2 separate regions of the Homo sapiens genome follow, and region 2 is linked to region 1. The links come from fine-mapping of genetic effects on gene expression. Tissue or cell type: whole blood. Region 1 holds a variant in brackets; the other region holds the start of a gene. All regions are shown on one strand. Distances are between the middles of the regions.

Region 1 (8,107 bases):
TTCAGCCCCACACACACCACCACTACTTTGAAGTGGGCAATCTGTCAGCATTAGGATAAATCGGATTGTGTAGCTAGCTAAAGTGGAGGAGGCAGAACCACAACGTAAGGAGACAGCCTCGTTGTTGTTTTTCCTAGTGTTGAAATAATGTATTTGGGGAGTTGGCAAAGAGCAGCTTACCATGTTAGTTTGATCCTCTCCCAGCTTTGAGACCCTTCTCTGGAACTCAGTGGGGTATTGAGGCTTTGACAGCCTGGTGACTGCAGTCCCAGGAGGCCAGGGGAGGATTTTGCTGAGGAGAAACAAGTGCAAGGACTTTCCCATGAAGTTCATGTTCTTCCTTGTTCTCTCTCTCTCTCTCTCTCTCTCTCTCTCTGTGTGTGTGTGTGTGTGTGTGTGTGTATTTCCTTCTCTTTTCTGGTTAGTACCCCAGGCAAATTCCGAATTGCTGCCTAGAATTAAGCTGAAATTCACAGAAGGAAGGGCTGCAAAATCCCCATATATTCAGAGAAAATGGGGAATCCCTTAGTTTTCAGGTTAGCTACTGACTTTTCAAAGAAAGCTTCTTGAAGTGCAGTTTTATGTACTTTGGCTATGTGCAATTTTATCTACTTCGGCTAAGGTTGGCTCCTAATGACCAAGGCTCAGTGCAATGAGGGCTCTCTCACATGCCTGTATGTAAGAATCTGCAGCTATACTGAGCTACCAATTGTCTTCTGACTGATTGCTCCATTGAATACTAGATTCACTTCTCAGTCTCTCTCTCTCTCTACACACACACAAACACACACACACACACACACACAAAGTATGGACACATGGTCCCCTAATACTTCTTTAAAGAATGGGTGGAAGCATTAGAAATGTGAAAATAATGTCTCAAACATCTGGAAAATAAACCTCAGGTTTGAAGAATAGTGGCCAGAAACTTAAGTTAATTCAGAGTAGAAGAAAGAAGAAAAATAAAGAGCAGAAGAGGCACGGGTGTAAACAACTTCAAGTTAAGAAAGAAAAGTAGCCATAAGAGAGTCATGTGGTCCCTTAGAAACTAGACTGATAAATGCAATATGGTGTGTGAGGAGCAGTGTTTAAGAACATAATTTCATTAATCTGTCTAACAGAACACTCCTTAATGCTTTCTTTTGCTGTTATTTAGAGAATTGGAATTTTATCTTTCAGGAAAAGTCATCTGTCCATGCAAACCATTAAAAAATTATCTTACATATTGTAAATATGTAAGCCTCTACTCCAGAATGTGGACATTTAGAAAATAAACTCTAAATGGAAGGCATTTTTCTTGTGCCTGGCCTTTCTCTTATTAAATACAGAGACCATTTAAACTATATTTCTTTTGAGGTACTAAAACCTTGACTCCAGTTTGTATAAAATAATGTTTTTGGTACTTAAGTTGAGGGTGGAACAGCTTGACCTTTTTATGTCTTAAGCTAGAAAACAGCGACAATTTTATACATCTGAGAAGGGAGCAATTTATTGAGAATCTGGCCAACAGATGCTTCATTTCAGTTTCACTTTTTTGCCCTCTAATTAATTTTTTTCCTACTGCTTTCAGGTAGAGATCCTTAAATATAAGAATTTCTCACATTTTATGAATCTGACCTACCCTTTTTATTATGAGTTAAATAACTGACATAACAAAACAATATAAGTAAGATTAAGTCGAAATTCTTACTTGAAGAGTTTTCTAGTAATTTAAGTGGTACACATTTTGCTTGGTAATATAAATGTCCTAAATGACAATAATTAATAGGGGATAAAGAAAATCTACAAATTATTTTTATTTCTGTAGAAATTTATGGGCTAAAATGGTACATAAACTACTTTGAAATCACTCTGCATTAATACTTACTGGAATTCACTGATACTAAATGAAGGGTTGAGGCATTTATTCAGCCTCAGACAGTACTATAAAAGTGTACCTAGTCAATAGTTTTATGTAATTCATATGGAACAATGGGTTTATGCATATATTTGGAGCTCTCTTCCCTAGGATTTTATTTCCAATTAAGTAATTAGAAGAATGACAATGAAGAGTGGGTATGCTCACCTTGTTCCACTTTAGCAAGGCTCTTTGGAGTCCTGGCAAAAATACACATGTAGGAAACTGTAGTGTTATTTTGGAAGAGTGGGCTGGAGAGAGGTTGATAAATGACACCCCAGGTGGCTTTTATGACCTAAGTGAGAGGGTGGAGAAAGGGTAAGAAAGGGAATTTTAATTCTTAGGGAGTATTAGAATGGGAACACTCTTTCTCTTCCCAGGGTTCAAAAATGGAGCCCAAAATATTTCAACTTCTGTGATAAGAGGCAGGTAACATCTCCAAGAATAATTCACGTAAAGATTATTATCCCATGAGAATGAAAACACACTGATTTTCTTTTTCTATATCTTTCTAGGTCCTGGCTTACCCACCTCTAACTCTATTGCCAAAGCACTATGCCAGCAAAGGCTTGATTGTCAAAAGAGTATGGCAATTCATGGTGAAAGGGGGGGAAAAAACCCACACACTGGAAGATAAGAGGATGCCAATGGAGCAGACAGTGGCAGCTCCTTCCTAAGCTTATTAATTTCCCACAGGGAGGTCTCTGGAAGGGGCTGTGAGGGTTGAGGGAGGAAGAGAATAGATCTTCAAGGAGGAGTATTGTATTACCTAGCCTCACCATTCAGAATAAGGAACTTTTTAAGGGATAAACTTTACTGACTACTTGTACATGAAAGAGAAACAGAAATGATGGGCTGGTCAATTAAGAAAAACACCAGGCCTGTGCCAAAAATGTTGTTCAGAGGGTTGTTAACTCATTTTCTACCACTTTGCCTTTATCAAGAGAAAGATACATGGTGGGTTTTTAAAAAGACCCAGAGGGGTTTGTTTGTTTGTTTTACATTTTGGTGAGTCGAGAAGAGCCATGCTTGCTGAGTTGGGTAAAGGATGATGTGAGGGGGTGGGGTGTGGGAAGGGCTACTCGTTTTTTATAAGTATACATTGCAAACTCAGTTTAGGTCTGTTCCTCACCCTAAGTATTGTAGTTGGCTCACTGGGTATTACATGAGCAAATGTTTTCCAGGCTGGCCCTGGGAAAGCCAGAGACTCAGGGTTGGGTAATTTTGTAGCCTGTGAGGAAGGACTTCAGGCTCCCAACTGTAGGGATCATTACTTCTGACTCATACTTTTCTCTCTTGGGCTTTTCCTCGTAAATGATCCTGCTTTTAATCCTGCTGCTCCTGCAGCTACTACTACCACCATTATCATTACAATGATAATCTACCTTTCTCAAGTTTAAAACTTTCTCTCTTAGCCATTCCCAAGTTTTACTTACACTTGTGTTGGAGTTCAGCTGAGAATGGGATAGTCTTTGAAAGCTGTATGTTATTATCTTCCTCTCCTGGATCTGGGTTGTAGTGAACTGGCTTAATGGCCTCTGAGTATGACTTTTAGAAGGGCTAGCAAACCGAAGTGACATTGTGCACAACTACCAACAGATATGAAATCAGTGCCCCATACTCATCTGTGTGAGTGTGACCTCTGAACCAAATCCAATATCCACTATTTCAACCCCCTGGGTTCTCCCAAATGTTATACTCTTCCCCAGATGAGTGTGTAAAGATCTGGCAAGAAAAGGCTTGGATTTTTGTCAAATCTGTAGGTTCCAAAGTCCTTCCTAGACTCAGACACCACACCCTTTGAACGCATCTCAGTGTGAAGGGGGTTGACTGGTTGTAGCCAGTTCTCCATCAGTCACTCTGAACCTCCTTACCCTCTGGGTCAGGATTTTTAGGCAGACTGCAGATCAGGGGATGTCTAGCAGTCTCAAATTGGTGTCCAGCAGTCTCAAATGAAATTTTGAGAAGTCTAACTCTAGGCCTTGGGAATGTGACAACATTGAGAGGCTTTACATCAAATTTCTTCACACAGCCAGGAGAATGGACATCATCCCAATTCAGTACCTGTGTGCCACCCTTTTCTTCTCTGTTTTAGGTGGATTGTAATTCCTGAGTTAAATAAAGAGGCAACGATAGACACACAGCATATATATCCTGGGCAGACTACACTCCTTGACATCTAATCCCAGTTAGCTTTCTGAGGTATGGACTGTAAGAATTCGGGCTGCTGGGGAAAAAGCAGCAGAAAGCATGGCTCTTCTGGGAAAGAGGTCTAGGCAGGGGACACAAATGTCCAGTACTTGGAATAAACCCATGGTACACTTTCCTGAGGCCTGAAGAGAGAGACATTTCATTTTCTCCAGGAAAAGAGAAGCGAGAGAAAGAAAGTAAAAAGAAAGGAAGAAAGAGAGAGACAAAGAGTATTTGAGAAGCGGATACCAGTTAGGAACCACAATAGTGGTGATTTACCTTGTATTAAAGAGTATTGGAAATATGGTTCAATTTCTTCACAAATTATGCTCCCAAACTGCTCCCTTGCTCATATTGCCAACTGAACTCTGAGTGAAAACTATCTTTCATGATTTCAGTTCAATTAATCCCAGGTGTTCTATGATTTAATCCAGGGGTATTAATTTAGCATCAATGGGGGATGTCTCCCAAAACATTATATGAA[G/A]AGGTGTTAGTTTTCAGAAGATTTTCAAAAACACTTGAAAGCTACCAATGTAAGTCTTTCCTCACTGCTAATACTTGGAAAGGTGGTCTCCTTAAAAAAATTCAAAGATCAACATGTCACAAATGCAGCAACATCATTATTACTATAAACACTTCTGGACTTACATTATGAAGTGGAGGCAAGAATAGGCAAGGATTGTAACATATTTGTTCTCTTGAACTTGCTGAGCGAAAAGATGCTTCCCAGGCTGATTTGATAGTATCTGTAATATAGTAACCGTGGTATTATTCATAATCTCCTTTTAAGGAAGTTTAAAGGAAAACTCATATTTTTCAAAGAAATAATACCCGGAATTGCTAAATAAAACACTCATACATTCCTAAGAATAAACATGTTGAATATAATGACCTAGATGTTGAGATTTGCTAGGCCTAGAATTTAACTTAGGCCTGAATAACTTTATACCTGAGCAGAAATTGTCCTCTATGCATATATGGGTATGGGTGTGTGTTTAAGAAGGTTGGGGTGAATGTTGTCAAAGGCAGCAATTAAAAATAAGTTTTAGGACTGTCATTTTACTTGGATGCTTGTCCATTAAGTAGCCAGTGCTCTTTTTTGGATGTTTTCATGTAGGGTGGTTTTGAGAAAATAGTTTGTGTGAAGTCATACAGGACAGCAATTGGTCCCAAGGGAGCAAATTGAATAGCTATAAAGAATATATTTCCTGAGTATAATGTTACTATCTAATATCTTGTGTGTGTGATCAACTATCCCACAGCATTATCTATATTCTAGAGTCAGTTTACTGAAGTCCTAAGACATCTATGTTCCAGATAAGTGGGGTTCCCCTAAACTTGTGAAAATATCCTCGAGAAAGCCAATGCCAATGCACCGAATGCAACGAGTTTCATTTCTAACCTGGGGGACTGAATTAGCTGCTCCTCCTCAAGGCCCCACACAGCTGAGTTTGAGTCCTAAGTTTGGGAAGCAAGACAAGGCACAGAAGTGCCTGCTAGACTCGGACACTTCCTGATGTCTAGATTGTCCGGTGCCCATGTCTTAGTGAAAGGTACAGCGACAGAACTAAGAGTGCAGAGAAGGCCAAATCACGGACTTCAATGTTGGCAAACCGGGTTTCCCTGGGAGAGATCCAAGGAGAGTAACGCCCCCACAGTATCAGGAGGCGCAGACACAGATCACATCGTTTGAGCTGATTCACCAAAGAGTGCAGAGCCCTGACACAGGAGGCTACCAGGGCAGAACAAAACAAGCCATCGTCTGCCCGGCGTCGCCCTTGTAGACGCACAGTGCGCAAACCGTGAATGTGGGGCAGTGTGGGGCCAAGCGGTGCGCTTGGTACGCTCCAAATGAGCCCTGGGCGAAGCAGGGAGGAAATGCAGTTCCCAAGGGCCCGCCACATTTCCCATGTTCTTTAGCCTTCCACCGGCAATTAGTGCCATCACTTGCTTCCCGCTAGGTGACCACTTAACCTGCGGAAAGGCGTTCCAAGGGCGGGGCCTGCGGGAACCTAACACTCTTTCCACCACCCTCTCTCCCTGCCTCTGTGCACGACCTCGACCAGCTGGTCGCCTGATCTCGTTTAGCAGGGCAGGAGCCTGTGTTCCCATTTCTTACTAGCTGGGCTGCCGATGACCTAGCTCAGCCTTGGTTTTCCTCCGGTTGAACAAAAGCTGGCAAGAGCTGCCTCCCGGATCGCAGTGAGGACTCTAAGGGAACGAGGGCGAACGCGCTTTGGAAAGCCAGTTGCTGAGCAGATGGTAAGGGATCACTTCCAAGAGCCAGGGCTAGTTTCATTTCAGTCTTGGACACGAGATGGTCTCAATGCCTTCATTAATGAACATTCTCCTTAGAAGTCTGGAGAACTGACCCAAGAAGAAGGACCAACAATTCAGGCTCAGGAAAGCCCACAATTCCACAGGGGAACCAGGACTGCATGGCTTCGAATCCCAGCCCTCCCCACTCAGGTAATTTAACTGGTCTATACTTCAGTCTTTCATCTGTGAACTGAGAGCATTAAAGGGACCCTTTTCATAAAGTTAGTGCTGAGGTGATACTTAGCAAGCAGAGAACAACGCTTGGTACATACTAAATGCCCATTTCAGAGCTGCCTATTGTTACTAACACTGCCTTTGCTTCCTCATTAGAAAACTGGGAACTGTATTGTGAACCCACTTTCCAAGTGACCCAGCGAGGGCTGAGGATTTCCCGAAGTTTCTAGGGAGAAATGGAAGGAAAGGCAGTCATCCCTTCCCTCTTTCCCAGCCCGCACCGCGCACCTCCCACCCCCACCCCAGGTTTAATGCAAGAGCAATCAGTTTGCTGCGGAAGGCCTGCCCGGTAGATTGATATTTGACTTCCATCCTCCCATGCCCAGCTTGCAAGTTCTTTCTTTAGGCCTGGTAGAGGCGCCAAGGGTCAGGGTCGCGGTGCCACGTTAGAAACGCGGATAAGTCAGTCTGTTAAAGGCTGATCCGGGCGACTCCGTAGGATGAGAAGCATGTGAACACGTTGATGGTAAACTCCAGCGCCGCGGCCAAAAGCCGAGGTCTGGGGGTGGGCAGAGAAACCTGGGGACCGGGCTTCCCAGCGCTGACCAGGGCTCTGGGCCTCCTAGAGCGCGCGTGACCTTCCCACTCCTGTGAAGGGCTGTGGCTCAGATGCGGACCGGGTGGATGGCTCCAGCCCTCCCCTACACACCCAAGTCCCGGAGCTTGGCAGGACGAGGTAACTGATGCCCGGAGGCAGCAGCTACACCACTGGCACTGGAGCTTTGTGCAGGGCGAGTTCCCCCCGTGGCTGCCCTCACTCCTTGTCCCAGCGCCCGCACGCTGGCTTCGAGCGGAGCCCTGTGGGCCGCACGACAGACGGAGCTCCCTGTCTGGCTCGCGATGCCCGGCGGAGCCTCCTTCTCCTAGCCCACGCAGCTTCCGCGCAGGAGCAGCCCTGAACGGGAGCTTTACGTTTTCCCCACGCGCACCGTCTCAAGTTATATGAAACTTTCCGCCCAGGCTAGGACTGGGGATCAGGTAATAGCGGTCAGTTGTGGGTTCCCAGTTGCTCTTCCTCCTGAAGGATCCAAGAGGCAGTGGTTAAGAGGTTGATATTTGGGATTTTGAACACTCAGGTCTGAACCCGGGGTCTGTAATCTCCTACCTGTGTGTTTGAGCAAATTACATAACCTCTCTGAAATTTAGTATCTTCATTTGTAAAATAGTAAAGACAACATCTATCTCATAGAGTGGTTATGAAGCCTGGGTTCAGATCCCAGCTAGGCCACTTGCTTGAGTTAGTTAGTATCTCTATGCTTTTGTTTCCTGTGAAGCAGGGGGATCTGTGAAATAGGGATATTATAATATTTAACATCAATAACATCATATTTAAAGGGTCAGCATAAGAATTAAGTGTGATGAGGCTGGAAGAGCATTCAGCCTAGCACAAAAGAAATGCCCAAAGTTTAAAGCAGCTCAGTGTCTTCTGCTTTGGAATGCTGGGTAAATAGAATTTTTAAAATCTCA
Region 2 (8,107 bases), 120 kb after region 1:
CTTTCATCTTCCCTCATTATTGCTTAGGAAAAGAATGACCAACAGTTTTGCTTGCCAGGAACTATCCCAGGGACTGCCCTAGTTTTAGCATGGAAAGTCCCATGTCCATGAGACTGAAGACACCCCTCAGTCTGTGACAAATTAGGACACTTGGCTGCCCCAGTAATTAATGATCTTCTGATTAATTTTTATTAAATGAAAGTGATTTGATTAGTTATTGGTCTGAGGCCATTTTTTGCTTTGCTGTAGATCTTACATGAGCAAGTCAGTGAGATGCAAAATGCTCCAGGACTGGGATGAATTCTTTACCCAAGCAAACAGATAAACAAAAAAGTGCTACTATTTTTCTGGTATGTCAATATTCTCTGCCAGCCTTGTACTCAAGAAAGAAGAACTGAGTGGGAGTACTCTCAGAAGGCCTGGAAATTTTGAGGAAGAATGAGTTTTAAATTGAGGTATTTTGCTTTAGTTTGAACCTAGGACAAGATGGATTCTTAGACCAGTTTGGGAAGTCCCAGAAGATGAGCAGGTAATTAGTCAAGACTAGGGATAAAGGAAACCAACAAATGTGAGTTTAAAATACTTCCTTAGGAGGACAGAGTACATGGTTAGTATCATGTCTCATATTTCTTTGCCTTCTGTCTCCTTCTAACATGAAACCAATTGTCACTTTTTTGGGGGGATACATTTTTTCCCCAGATTTTATTCAATAACATGCTGATGTGGCATATAATATCTTTGATTCTGTCTTAAGATTAAAGTTGAAAATGGAAACCAGTTTCAACCAGCAATGAATACAAAACCTTGAAAGATGAACAAGCTGTTGATACAAATTTCCTGAAAATGTCAGCCTGTTTCAGTTCTCTTATGGGAAGTCAGGGAGATTTATGTATTCAGGTTGGACCAAAATGTGAAATGAGAAGTGGCAACACATACCTGGAGACTGGAGGGCTGCAGAAGTAATCAGTATTTTAGAACCTCAAGAAAAGATGAAGCCAAGGAGGACAGAATTAAGGTGCTTTAAGGACTTTCTTAATTAGTCTCAGGACTAATTAAGGACTTGCTTCTAGTGCTTAATTATTTGAAAATTATGAAGGCTGTATGTTTCCTTCTTACAAAAGTAAAAGTTATCTTCCATCTAGCTAGCCCCTTGCCCCTCAGTATCTTCCTCACTCCATCAGGTAAAAAGTGGCAGATTGATGCAGTTGATAGTGGTGGAATTTCCATCCCCAAGTGACCAGTTGGCAAAGAGTGAGAAGGGATGTTAGCCACCCTCCATTCAATGTTTGACATTTGTAATGAGCATATTTTCAAAATGGAGGTCTGCCGGTATATATTGAAGTTTTCATCCATTCATAATTCTCAGGTTAGTTGCTATAGTGATGATGGTCCAAGGTACCATTTTATTTTGCCTTTGTTAAAATAGAGATGATAAGACTGACAGAATGTACTCTGTGTTCATAAGACACCAAATTATAAACAAGACCTAAGACCATGCCAGGCAAAGGTCAAGTCACACACTCCTACACTTAAAAAATAAACTATATTCTAACTGCCAAAAGGGTTTTCTTTTTCTCTAGCATCTAAACAAACACTGGCCTCCAGATAAGCAATATTGAAACAATTGCATCTTACTGACTGCAAGACACTAACTAATTAATCCTCCACCCCTACCCCTGTTCCACAAGCCATAACTACAGCTCTGACTGGACAAGAGACTGATTTTAATAACTCTCCTGATAAGAGACCACTGACCATAGACTGGTTCTGGCTGGTTTACAGAGGCTGTGGCACTGAGTGCCTTCATGTCTTCTGTTTCACCTTTTGACATATAGGGCCTAATTATAATACATTTAATTGTTAAGTCTCCACCTCAAAGTGAACATGAGACATATGCAACTTGCATGTTTGCTTACTATTCATGTTTGCTTACTAAACATGCATGTTGCATATGTCCCATGTTCACTTTGATGTGGAAACTTAACCCACCTGCTTCAGAAATATGCATAGTTCATGTACCCCTTGCTTCAGAAATATTCATAGTTCCTCCTATAACCTGTTGAATATGTATACTTGGCCAACTCATTTAGCATAAATTCCTGTTCCACCCTTTCCTCCCTCAAAGTGCCTGCTTTTTGTCTCTGCCAGAGGCTACACTTCCCAGCCTGTCAAGATGTCCAGCCTGCAGCTGTAACCCTTTATAAGAAATGAAGTTCTCCTTTCCAAATTTATGAACCTCAGGATTGTTTGTCAACATGTTGCTACTGCAATAGTCTCCTAACTGCTCTCCCTGTTGTCACTGTTGCTAACTCCAAATTCATTGTCTCATTGCAGCCAGAATGATCTTTGAAAAACACAGATCATATCAATTCATCTGCCACTCCACTCCTGGGCTTAAACCCCTCTAATAACCTCCTGTCACACTCAATATTAAATATCTGAATTCCTTATCTCAGTAAACAAAGCATCACATAATCTGGCCCTTGCCTATTTGTCTTACATCATCTTACCTGCAAAGCTCCAGCTACACAGTTTTTTTTTTTTCTTTTTTGAATATGCTAAGCTAATGTCTATGGACCTTTGCAGTAACTCCAAATGTTTCCCCTTAGAGCTCTTGGAATGACTGGGTCTTTTTTGTTAGTCACTGAGTCTGTCATTCTTTATCATCACAATATTTTAAATTTCTACAGGCCACCTTTCCAATATGGACATTTTTTTTCCTTGCTTATGTATTTATTTCTTATTGTCTGTTTTCACTCTTCAGCCAGACTGTCAGCTTCATGAAAGCAAGGGCTTGTTATCTTGTTCTGTGCACTAACCTCCACTTCTGGAACAGTGCCTAGCAAATAATAGGCACTCAATGAATCTTTGTTAAAGTAACTAATTTTTATCTTCAAAGAGCTGACATATCTGGTTGTATATCAAATATAATAAATGAAAAGTTAAATACATATGGCAACAAACAGAAGAGATGTATATGTAAGTACTACATAAAGCATTGATTTTGTTAAAAATGAAAAGGTATTTAGGTTCTAAAAGCCAGTTTTGACTAAGGGAGGGCGGAAGTCACGGAGGTGGGGGGAAGAGAGAGGAGGGAGAGCAGAACTAGTAGACAGAGGATTTGTGCACAAACTTGAGTGCTTGCACAAGTTTTGCAAAGGAGACCTAGCTTGCCCAAAGCTGAAATTCTCCAAAACTGGAGCTTGCAGGGAAATGACAGTGGGCTGAAATATTTTGAGGTACAACTTTCCACTCCCAAAGAGGCCTGCTATCCCCTCCCACTCCCCACTCCGGCCTTTCCTTGGCTTGGCTTTTTTTAAAGAAAAAAAAAAAAAAAACTAAGCAGGTTTCTTTAGAAGAAAAAGAGGAAGTTCATAAAGAGTGTTTGTGGTAGTAGGGGTGGGGTGGAGTGAGGAGTGAGGAGGCCGTCACCTCCCATGGAATCCTTAGTCTTGGGTTTGTGAACCACGCATGGGGGCTGTTTTAGCACAGCTGCTAAAATAGGCCAGGCCTGCAGGACATACGGGTATGTTTAGTTTCTAGATAACTTTTGTTTTTCTAAACTCCTTCTTCCCTTTCCCAAATCTGGCAAGCGTTAGTCATCTTCAACTCGGCAGGAACCCACAAGTGTGCATGTGTGGCTCGGAGGCTTCAGCTGGGGCCCCGCCCTCGTCCCCAGGCGCACACTGACACACGCAGCCCAGACCCGGCCCGAGCGGGCTCCTGCCCTCGGCGTGGCTTCTCTCCAGCCGGGAGTCCCAGGGCCAGCTAGCCTCCTCCCCTAAAGGGGACGGCCTGTCAGCGCAGTGCCAGAGTCCAGCACCGGGAGGAAAGTTTCGGAGTGCGGAGGGAGTTGGGGCCGCCGGAGGAGAAGAGTCTCCACTCCTAGTTTGTTCTGCCGTCGCCGCGTCCCAGGGACCCCTTGTCCCGAAGCGCACGGCAGCGGGGGGGACTTCAGCCCTCCAGGCGGGGTGGGTTCCAGGTCCGGGTCCGAGGCGGGCGCTGGAGGCTCGGCCCCAGGCCGGAGAGGAACTCCTTTCGCGAGCTGTCGCCGTGGGCCCGCATTGTCTGCAGGAACTCTCCGGAATCGGGAGGGGGAGGACTGGATCGCGCTTCCACTGGGATTCGTCAAGAGTTCCGGCGGCAGCTGCGGCGGTGGCGGAGACTCCCTTTGTCCTCTCAGGACCTCCCTCTCTCCCTCCCTGTCAGCTGGTGGGTCCCGCTGCCGCAGGCGCCGGCGTCTCAGCTGCTCGCCGCCCCCCACCCCAGAGTGCGTGCCGGGTGACTCCCGCCACCTTTGCGACCCTCCTGAGCTTAGGGGACTGCGAGCGGGAGGGAGTCTCAGGCCCCCGGCCGCAGGATGGTGGCGGAGCGGTCCCCGGCCCGCAGCCCCGGGAGCTGGCTGTTCCCCGGGCTGTGGCTGTTGGTGCTCAGCGGTCCCGGGGGGCTGCTGCGCGCCCAGGAGCAGCCCTCCTGCAGAAGAGCCTTTGATCTCTACTTCGTCCTGGACAAGTGAGTGTGCGAGGGAGGTCCAGGGTCTCCTGGTGAGGGCGGCACTGGATCAGCTGGGGCTGAGGCTGAGATGCGTGTGCGCACCCCGGGGAGTGGTGTTGGAAACCCGCGGAGGGGTGCCCTGTTGCTGTCTTCTTTCAAAGGGCAAGCGCGTTCGGATCTGTGTGGGCGGAGATCAGCCGGGTCGGGGGTAGTGATTGGAGCCCCGGGCTACTTGGCTCTTTGGGGAGTTGGGGTATTCACTGTTTGCCAGTCTTTTGGCCTCTTGGGAAATGGGAGTGTGGCCTCTTGCGGGCCACGCTCCATCGGCCACAGAGTCCTTACCCACCTCCTCGACCCTGCTCGTACGCAGGCTAAAGTTTGCCTGGTTTTATCCTAATCATAGCGCTTTCATTGGAGCCAGGAAAAGCCTAGGGTTAACATGCCCAATGTGGTTTGCATTTCCTGCGAAGAAAGGCTTTTGTGTTTACTCTGAAGAGCTGGGTTCCACTCTAAACAATTAGGCAGGTATTTACCCACCCCAGAAAACGGGCTGACTTCTTCTTCTTCTTTTTTTTTTTGACGGAGTCTTGCTCTGGGACTGACTTCTTTAACTCTGGGTACCACCAAAGTTTCAGCTACAGATACCCTTACTTAGCTTGAAAAAGAGGCCAGGTGCCCCTATGTTCGTGGCATTGAAGAAGGAACCATTTCAAAATGTTTACTTTTCAGTTCCGTGTTTTGTTTCTCTGATCAGTTCAATTTCATCTTTCAGGTCTGGGAGTGTGGCAAATAACTGGATTGAAATTTATAATTTCGTACAGCAACTTGCGGAGAGATTTGTGAGGTATCTTTCTTACTTTACTTTTCTAGGCAGTGGAGAAGTAGAGCAAAGTGTAGAATTTCCCTTTTCTGAAACCTTTTATAGGAAAAACTTTTCCTGAAATGTTACTTTTAAGTGCCTCAAGGTCGTATTGCACACATGCTGTTATTAGGACAGCCCTTCAGTCCTTGAGGGCTTATTTCATCTGGATCCCAGAAACTTGGCTCAGACTCTGGGGAAGCATCTTCAAATACTATTCCAAATGTCTTTTTCTTTCCGAATTTTCATCTGTTTTGAATTTCAGTTATGCTTTCTCATAATTTATCACATTAAAAAAATAAATTTTATGCGAATAGTATCCATAATATATTTTTCTTTCCACACATTTCTTAGCATTATAGAGGCCCTCATTAAAACAAACAAAAAGTGTTGGAAAACTTCAAATGAACATGTGTTAATAACCCGCTACCAGAAAAGGCACTTGTGTGTGTGTTTAAAGCAACGACTTGTGTTTACACAATGTGTGGGTGTGTGGTTGGTTTAAAATTTAACTGTTCTATATATGCAATAAGCATCACCAGGAAAGACTGGTTTCCTCTCCTATAAAAAGCATTACTGGTATGAAATCCAGCTTACTCTCTTATTTAGAGGTAACTAGGAATTAGTGGCATCTCCTATTTAAAAATAACCTCAGGACACTAGGCTTTTGAGGCTTTTTTTTTCCTTCTTTTTTTTTTAAAGAAAAAATGCAATGAGCAAACACAAGTTTATCAAGATAATGGAAAGGACATGAATAGGAACTGTATCATTAAATATTGCTTCTTTCAGTCTTGTTAGCCCAAATGTTTTCTGTAAAACAGGCTTGGATGATCAAAACATTTTGAAAGTCATGTTGCAAGTAACTTCAAACAATCTGTAGAGGCCTAGGCAATCCTTGCTTTCAGTTATTGGCAGCAGTAAAGTTATCCCTATAAAAATGTATGCCTGTCCATGTTCAATCATCAGTCCCTTGCTTAAGAAGCCAAGTTTAACACTCATTTCTGGACAGGGTCTGAGGTAAAACTGTCTAGGAAAGAAAAACAAACAAGATCCTATGTCCCTAAATGTCAAAGGCAGAACAGACAGTTGTTTATAAATTTTCTAATTTAATCCTTCAATGTGAAAAGGGTGTCATGTAGATTTTGATCAAAAGCAATGAATCACATCACTACAACATTTTAAAGAAGCAAGCTCTTATCTTAACTCATTGATCTGGTTTTTAAGTTGGAATTCTATAATACACAGTTGTCTGGCTCAAGCCTAGTTGCTCAATTACTAACAATACATTGTAGGAAGTGAATAAGGGGTGACTAATGAAGAGACTGACTTTTAAAATATGTATAAGCCTTTGAGAGGATTCTGATTTTCAGTTTATAGATTCTAGTTTCATATCTTCAGTTTTGAATCTTAGTAGTAGTTGCAGAGAGTGTCCGAGAAGCAAGAACCGTTCTGTGAGAGACATGCCTAAAACTTGAAAGATATAGCTGACTGGGGCACTTGTTGCCAATGGAAAATAGCATGTTTGAGACTTAGAAAATAAAAAATGCCTAAGCAGAAAGTGATTTATTGTTTCTTTCACATTTTCCATGACTCTTTAAGTAGTCTTACTTCAGGATGACTTTTTTATAGACTCATATCATAGTTATGGTCATTAAGTCAAACTGGGTACTCTCCACCCATAAGTGTTGATAACCATAATCACTTTGAAGGGCCTGGCCACCTTTAAAGGAAATGTTGTAGAAAACCAAGGGAAGAGGAATTTTCTACGAAAGAATTTTACATCAGCTTAGAATTTATCTTTCCAGTTAGTCTCTCTCTAAATGCAAGTCCTTATGGGTCATGGAGGAGTATGTGAGTGCTGGGAAGCGTTGACTAAATCCAAAATGACTTATGCAACAATGTTAAGCAGAGTTCGTCTATTTACTTAGGGAATGTCATTTAAAAGAAGCCTGGACCATTCAGTGAGACCAATTTTAAATGAACCTCCCTAACTATACATCTGTATCGTATCAATATTTCTTTTTAAAAATGTTTTAACTGCCTCTTTTCTTATTTTGCAGCCCTGAAATGAGATTATCTTTCATTGTGTTTTCTTCTCAAGCAACTATTATTTTGCCATTAACTGGAGACAGGTTAGTGCATTATCATTTCACTGCAGGCTTTTAGTAGAGATGAATTTTAAAGGCATGATTGATATTTCCAAGTGGTGATTCAGGCCTCTCAGTGGAATCAAGCAGATGCACAGACAATTCAGTTCTCTAATAGAAGGGAAAGGAGGTATGAGTAATATAAAAGAGCAGTTAATCTGAAAATCAATATCATTTATAGTGGCTGTGGAATGTGCAGTGAAATCTAGATCCCTGTCTTAGTTGTATATTCACCACTTCCTACCTTCCCCGGCCTCTCTGTTACTGTAAGTAGTTCTACATTTTTCTTGTTTAGATATAATATATTAATCAACCAGGAATTTGAAGAACATTGAGGGGGAGAAAGATATGGATCCTTTTGGATAATTTCCTAGATTCAGTAGACATCCTGGATTTCTGGTCTTTCTCTGAGGTCCATTAATGCTGAATATATTCACCTTTATAAGGGAACTTAGTATATATCAATATGTATACCAATATATCTCTATATCTATCTACCTATCTATTTAATCTCCTTAGTGTTTTTTAAAAGGTGTCTTTTTCAGACCAATGTCACAGTATTTCATATGACCATTTCTGTGTCATTCAAACAGTGTCAATGACAAGT

The links. PIP is the estimated chance that this variant, and not a neighbour inherited with it, causes the effect.
Region 2: it holds the start of ANTXR2, and the variant in region 1 is fine-mapped to the expression of ANTXR2 in whole blood (TOPMed, PIP 0.97).

Annotation. Positions count from the first base shown.
Region 1 is chr4:80,188,198-80,196,304 of GRCh38, reverse strand. It overlaps PRDM8-AS1 (PRDM8 antisense RNA 1), which reads left to right. Exons shown (of 6, transcript NR_183912.1): 3 at 3,993-4,099; 4 at 6,154-6,349; 5 at 6,446-6,556. It also overlaps a transcript of PRDM8 not described here. Among named protein-coding and RNA genes, the nearest start is that of PRDM8-AS1, 5.1 kb to the left of the region's middle. RefSeq lists enhancers at 1-192, 5,416-5,931, 5,932-6,448. The variant G/A (reference allele first, on the strand shown) is at 4,572.
Region 2 is chr4:80,068,814-80,076,920 of GRCh38, reverse strand. It overlaps ANTXR2 (ANTXR cell adhesion molecule 2), which reads left to right and starts at 3,692. Exons shown (of 17, transcript NM_058172.6): 1 at 3,692-4,512; 2 at 5,267-5,338; 3 at 7,414-7,485. The coding sequence starts at 4,361. RefSeq lists enhancers at 1-572, 3,343-3,622, 3,953-4,062 and a silencer at 4,243-4,402.